Homo sapiens: one gene and its partner. The protein of the gene in region 1 interacts with the protein of each later gene in a pairwise test. Each region holds a gene or a part of one and is shown in the gene's direction. Other genes may lie near its edges.

Region 1 (2,485 bases):
TTTTGTCTCCACCATGTATCAGGGTCATTGCTACACTACTTATATTGCCTGTGTATTTTCTGTAGGCCTCTTAATAAAATTTTAAATAAAAGTAATTATTTTTATTCCCATTTGGCAGTTGCAGAAACTGAGGTTCATCTAAGTTGAGGACATTTTCCATGGTCATATAATTAGGAAAAGACTCAGTCAGGAAATTAACCAATCTGTTTTCCAGGGAAAGCTATTTCTACTACAGAGCCTCTGGAACATGGAGGACATTGTACTGATTATCAATTTGTGGCCCCTCAGCATCTAATTCATCCTTCAGTATATTCTCTGTGCTGATAGATGGGATTCCTTTAAGTATTTCTCCTTCACTGTGAGCATGGCTTCAAGTTTTCTCAGGAGAGGATGCAGCAGGGACATTGCAGGAGGAAACAGAGCTCCTGCATTTTTGGGTGTGGCACAGAAGGGCAGTAGAAGGTATCAGCAGTGTGGGTTAAGGATATCCAATGAAGCTCCACCTCAGTTTTGGGTCCAGGATATGCTGGAAATTATTATTCAGTAGAAAGCACCGATGTACAGCATAAACATCAGAGTGGTCCAATTATTATGGATATCCAATTGTTAATTCGGTTCTTAAACACAAACAAACCTGTGTTTAAGAACAGAATTTAACAACTGGACATCAACAACAAAGTTGTGAACCAAGGAATTCCCCTCACTTTAAATGGAAAAATCAAAAGTTTATTCTATAAATTTTAAATGACACATATTACATAACTGACCTGTCAGACGTTTAACAAAAATTTTTTTTTCAAGCAAGAGAAGGTCATAGACTGCCTAGAAAAGGGGGGAATGGTCAAACTTTTCTTCAGAGAGAAGGAGAGGGTTTCAAGAAGTTGAGGTAGCACGTGGAAATACCCAATTCTTTGTCCAAAAACCATGATTTAGTAATTTTTAGTGACTATGATAAGAAAAGAACACCAAGGTATTAGGAAAGAATAAGAAGAAATGATGATGATGATGGTATTAAGAGCAGTGAGAACTCCTTATTAAATAGATAATTCTCAAGACCTTACAAGAACAGAAAGATAAACATACATTTATAGGTCAAACATATTTTGGTGATGTGTTATGTCATGGCTATGAAATGAAACTATGGAAAACAAAATTATGGTTGTATAAGCTTGTGTGTTTAGAACTTGTATATTTGTTTTCTTTTCAGGCATAAAAATATTCCTAGGGAAGTCATAAGCAAATTATGAATTCCAAAGAAAGTAGATGTACACAGAATGAGCTCATTTTAGGCAGATGATTATAAAATGAGCAAATAGAGCCCATGTGAGGATGACCCATGCATCCCTGGAAGTATATAAAGGTCTTAGAAGAGTAGAGGACAGTCACACTTCAGAAATATCCTCCTACACCTCAACTGAAATCTAACCTCCTGAAATCATGTGTTGCAACTACTACAGAAACTGCTGTGGGGGCTGTGGATATGGCTCTGGCTGGAGTTCCGGCTGTGGATATGGTTGTGGCTATGGCTGTGGATACGGCTCTGGCTGTAGATATGGCTCTGGCTATGGAACTGGCTGTGGCTATGGCTGTGGATACGGCTCTGGCTGTGGATATGGCTGTGGATACAGCTCTAGCTGCTGTGGCTACCGACCACTTTGCTACAGAAGATGCTATTCCTCTTGCTACTAATCATCACTACAGGTCATCCTTGGCTTTGCAATGACCTCTCCAAGATCAAGTTCAATTGAAATCTCCCCTACCCATTATCTTCACATCTAAGTAAAGGTTGACTATGGTCACCTGACTATCTGAATGCATATAAGAGAAGCTGTTGGCAGTGGATGGAGACTGAGTAGTTTCATCACATCGCTGAAGAGAGGAGATTTTATTCTGATTAATTTTCTAGTGTAATTTTCTAATGTAAGCTCTTACATCTTTTTCTGAATCTTTGTGCCATGACTATTTGCTGAAACACAAGAGGACTATATAATTGGAGCATACTAAAATGGAAAAAAAATAGAATTTTCTTAATAAAAGGCCTTACTCACTAAGAAGTCTGGTCTCCTTAATGTCTCCTTAATTTGAGGTTTTGTGGCTTCCTCAAAAGCTGTGTGACCACAACTTTAAATAAGACAACGTTATTTTATTGGTTGAATCCAAATACTTGTGTTTTACATATTTCTTAATTCCTTGTATGTTAACTCTTTACATTTTTATTTAAACATGAACACAAATATTAAGCTCAAAATTTTAAAATATGCATGAAAAAAGAATTAGAATAGAACCAAGAATGAGACAGGGGATCTACTCATGAGGTTAATGCACTAGTTCAGCAATGACTATCTTGTTTGAGCTTAAGTCAAGGTAATTAAGAGGCAACAATATTAATTTAATGTTAATAGCTTTTGAAATATGTAAAACAAGAAATCTTAGACTAAGCAGATAAGTCTCCTACAAGTGCTCAAGATGGTGAGAAAGGATCAGG
Region 2 (3,823 bases), on another chromosome or scaffold:
CCTGCGTGATTCCTCTGCCCTCAGTCATACCCAGTTGAGGGGCTCACCCCACGGGTTCTACCCGCTGGAGGGGGCCATGTTCCCTGCTCCCGCCCTTCCTCCTCACCAGTCCTTGCCTCGGTATCAGCCCCCAGGTGGGGAGCTCTGCTGCTGCCTGGACCAGGTCCTACTTCCCTCTCCTCGGGATGTAGGAAAGGGAGGGCCAGCCCTAGAGCTCACCCACCCCCCACAGCAAGCCTGTGTACTCCGCTCTGGCCACCTTGCTTCTCGCCTCCATCACCTACCCGCCTGGTGTGGGCCACTTCCTAGCTTCTCGGGTAAGGGGTCCTGAGCGGGGGTGGCAGGAGTGGGAACCCCCATTTGTTTTCCCCTTTGCATGTGTCTCACGTAATACCCTCAGCACCCCACCAGGGTGACACCTGGGCATCATTCTGCAGATAAGGAGACCATGGCTCTGGGAGGTCAGAGCCCTGCCCAAGGCCCCCCGCTGGGAAGTGGCAGGGGAGGATTCCAGGCGGGGTCAGGCGGTGCGGGGGAGGCTGGGGTCTGCCGCTGGGGGGGGCCCCTCATGTCCAGTTCCCACCTGCCCCGCCACAGCTGTCCATGAAGCAGCATCTGGACTCGCTGTTCGACAACCACTCCTGGGCGCTGATGACCCAGAACTCCAGCCCACCCTGGCCCGAGGAGCTCGACCCCCAGCACCTTTGGTGGGAATGGTACCACCCGCGGTTCACCATCTTTGGGACCCTTGCCTTCTTCCTGGTTATGAAGGTGGGCCCCCTGACCCCCAGGTGTGCACAGAGCCAGGACCAGCTCTGGTGGGGAGGGGCGGGGGTGCCTCCCTGCACCTGGTGGCATGGAGCCCAGGCCTCTCACCCACACTTCCTTCTGTGCCCCCTGCCCACTGCATGGTCCTGGATAAGTGGCTTCAGGTCTCTGGACCTCAGTCTTCCCATCTTTAAAATGGGGTGGTTACTGGGAAGGCAGAGAAGGAAGAAAGGAATGTACCTGGCACAGTGCCAGGCATACAGTGGGCATTTCTCAGGGTGAGGACCCTCCCCTAATGCCAGACTCTGGCAGTGGGTGCATGGCTGGCACCCTCTTTCTATCTAGGACACTCCCCTGTCCCCTGTCCTGTCTTCTCTTGTCCACACCTTGCCCAGCGGCCTCTAACCTCTGCCCTGGGCTCCCCCTTCCTGCAGTTCTGGATGCTGATTCTGGCCACCACCATCCCCATGCCTGCCGGGTACTTCATGCCCATCTTTATCCTTGGTGAGTCTGGGGTCCTGAGGTTCTGAGAGTTTTGGGGTTCTTGGGGCAGGGCCATGCATCCTGGTTCACCCTCTTCCCGGGTGGTACTAAGGATGGTCCTCAGGGATGGAGGGCTGTGGGGGCCGGGTCAGCCTGGCTCCCCCTCACCCTAAGTCTGTGGCCAGGAGCTGCCATCGGGCGCCTCTTGGGAGAGGCTCTTGCCGTCGCCTTCCCTGAGGGCATTGTGACTGGAGGGGTTACCAATCCCATCATGCCCGGGGGGTATGCTCTGGCAGGTGAGTGGGTCACGGCCCTGCTGGGTGGGCAATGTCGTGGGGCTGGGCTGGACCTGGAGAATTGGCTGGTGGTTCCCCAGGGCACGGAGCAGTCACTGAGTCCTCCAGTGAACCCCCTACCCCTCATGGGGGTCTGTCCCTCCTGAGCCCCACCATTCCCCGGGGCCCATCACTTCCTCGTGGCTCCTGTCCCCAGCCCTGCGGCCTCCCTTATCCCTCTCCTCTCACCAAGCCCAGGCCTTGGGGCACTTCCCACAGTGCCCAGGCTGTGGCCTCTTACAATTCCCACCCTAGCCCCCGGCAGCAGCCAGGCTAGTTATTCCCTCACATCAGGCTGGCCCCTGCCTCCTGGCCTGAGCCGACCTGTGTGGCTCTGCCCCGGCAGGGGCTGCAGCCTTCTCAGGGGCTGTGACCCACACCATCTCCACGGCGCTGCTGGCCTTTGAGCTGACCGGCCAGATAGTGCATGCACTGCCCGTGCTGATGGCGGTGCTGGCAGCCAACGCCATTGCACAGAGCTGCCAGCCCTCCTTCTATGATGGCACCATCATTGTCAAGAAGCTGCCATACCTGCCACGGATTCTGGGCCGCAACATCGGGTGAGTGGTGCCCACCTCAGGCTGACTGAAGGGGGTCACAGTGTTTGGGCTTGGCTGGGGGTGGAGGGCACCTCCAAAAAGAAACACCACCGCAGCTGACCTCCGACATGGGGGCTGGGAGGGGCTGACACACAGCTGTGCTCTCATCTCCACTCTCCCCAGTGCCCTGGGTGACCTTGGGCAAGTCCTTGGCCTTGAGGCCTCAGTGTCTGTCTAGGGGTCAGCTGGGCTTCACAGCAGGAGGATGAGTATTGCCCCGTGTACAGATTGAGGAAACCAGAGCTCAGAGAGGTGCCGTGTCTTGCTCCAGGTGACACAGAGAGTCAGCACCAGATCCGAGAGGTCTCCTCCCCTCTCCCCACTCCTGCTGTCCTTGCTGGGACTTTGGGAGCAGGAGGTGGAACGAGAATGGAAATGGGCTTTGAAGTCCTCACTCAACCAGATAGGACCAGAGCAGCTTCTGGCGCCAGAAAAGCAGACCAAAGAGGCTCTGAGAGTCCGAATCGGAGGCCCCGCTCCAAACACAAACAAGCTGCTGCCTTGCTCTGAACCTGTTTCCCCATCGGGAAAATGGGGCTGTTTATACCAGTGATTTTCAACCTTCCAAGTTTTTCCTTGGGGGTGACATACACTTTTATAATCAAATGGAATTATCCAGGGAAGGCTGCTGGGTCTGTACTCCAATCTCATTATTCATTAATGGATGGCCAGTCACTGACCACCTGGCAGATACTGGTTTTCCGTCATCTCACACTCAGCTCTGTCCAAGGTGGGACAAGACCCAAGTGAAGCTGGTCTGGGGGACATGGGGGACCAGGGGGTTGGGGATTTGGAACTGGGCCATCAGTAATGTGGTCCCCAGGTTTCCTCCCACTGTGGGTTCTAGGAGTCCCTCATTCCAGGAACCTCTCCAGCCCTGCTCACACTCCAGAGCCGTGGGTCCCTGGTTCAAGCAAAGCTCCCCTCAGATCCCCTTGCTGGCCTGGGTCTGACATCCCCGACTCCGGGACCTGATGGGAGCCCCTCTGCCTGCAGCTCCCACCATGTGAGGGTGGAGCACTTCATGAACCACAGCATCACCACACTGGCCAAGGACACGCCGCTGGAGGAGGTGGTCAAGGTTGTGACCTCCACAGACGTGACCGAGTATCCCCTGGTGGAGAGCACAGGTGCCCAGCTGGAAGGGAGGAGGAAGTCGGGGGTAGGGGATGCCCTCTGCCTCCTTCTTGAACCTGTCAGGCAGACAGGATCTGCATCCAGGCTCTGTGACTTAGCAACCAACCGTGTGACCTTGAGCAAGTCACTTCACCTGAGCCTCAGTTTCCTCATCAGCAAAATGGAAATCATGGCTACCCTCCCTTGGGGTGGTTGACATGTCTAAAGAGAGTCGGCTGGGTGCTTGTAAGGCAGTCCCTGGGCAGCTGCTGGGGTAGGAGCATGGGGACACCACCAAGGTCTTCCGGAAGCTTGGCCCTCAGGCCTGTTTCTTCATAATGCACCTCCCTCCCTCTCCCTCTCTACTTGCCAGAGTCCCAGATCCTGGTAGGCATCGTGCAGAGGGCCCAGCTGGTGCAGGCCCTCCAGGCTGAGCCTCCTTCCAGGGCTCCAGGACACCAGGTGGTTACTCCTGAGGGGCGTGGGGATGGGGCGGGGGTGGGTCAGCAGGGATGGGAGGGG

What was found.
Region 2: the proteins of KRTAP21-2 (region 1) and CLCNKA interact in binary tests that used the Homo sapiens proteins (3 or more experiments, as listed by UniProt).

The regions. Positions count from the first base shown.
Region 1 is NC_000021.9:30,746,155-30,748,639, reverse strand, and holds KRTAP21-2 (keratin-associated protein 21-2), read left to right. Parts: upstream 1-1,380; 5' UTR 1,381-1,437; coding exon 1,438-1,689; 3' UTR 1,690-1,846; downstream 1,847-2,485. UniProt on the Homo sapiens protein: In the hair cortex, hair keratin intermediate filaments are embedded in an interfilamentous matrix, consisting of hair keratin-associated proteins (KRTAP), which are essential for the formation of a rigid and resistant hair shaft through their extensive disulfide bond cross-linking with abundant cysteine residues of hair keratins.
Region 2 is NC_000001.11:16,028,529-16,032,351, forward strand, and holds part of CLCNKA (chloride channel protein ClC-Ka), read left to right. Parts: intron 1-232; coding exon 233-317; intron 318-597; coding exon 598-771; intron 772-1,202; coding exon 1,203-1,272; intron 1,273-1,436; coding exon 1,437-1,547; intron 1,548-1,932; coding exon 1,933-2,146; intron 2,147-3,181; coding exon 3,182-3,315; intron 3,316-3,674; coding exon 3,675-3,763; intron 3,764-3,823. UniProt on the Homo sapiens protein: Anion-selective channel permeable to small monovalent anions with ion selectivity for chloride > bromide > nitrate > iodide. Forms a homodimeric channel where each subunit has its own ion conduction pathway.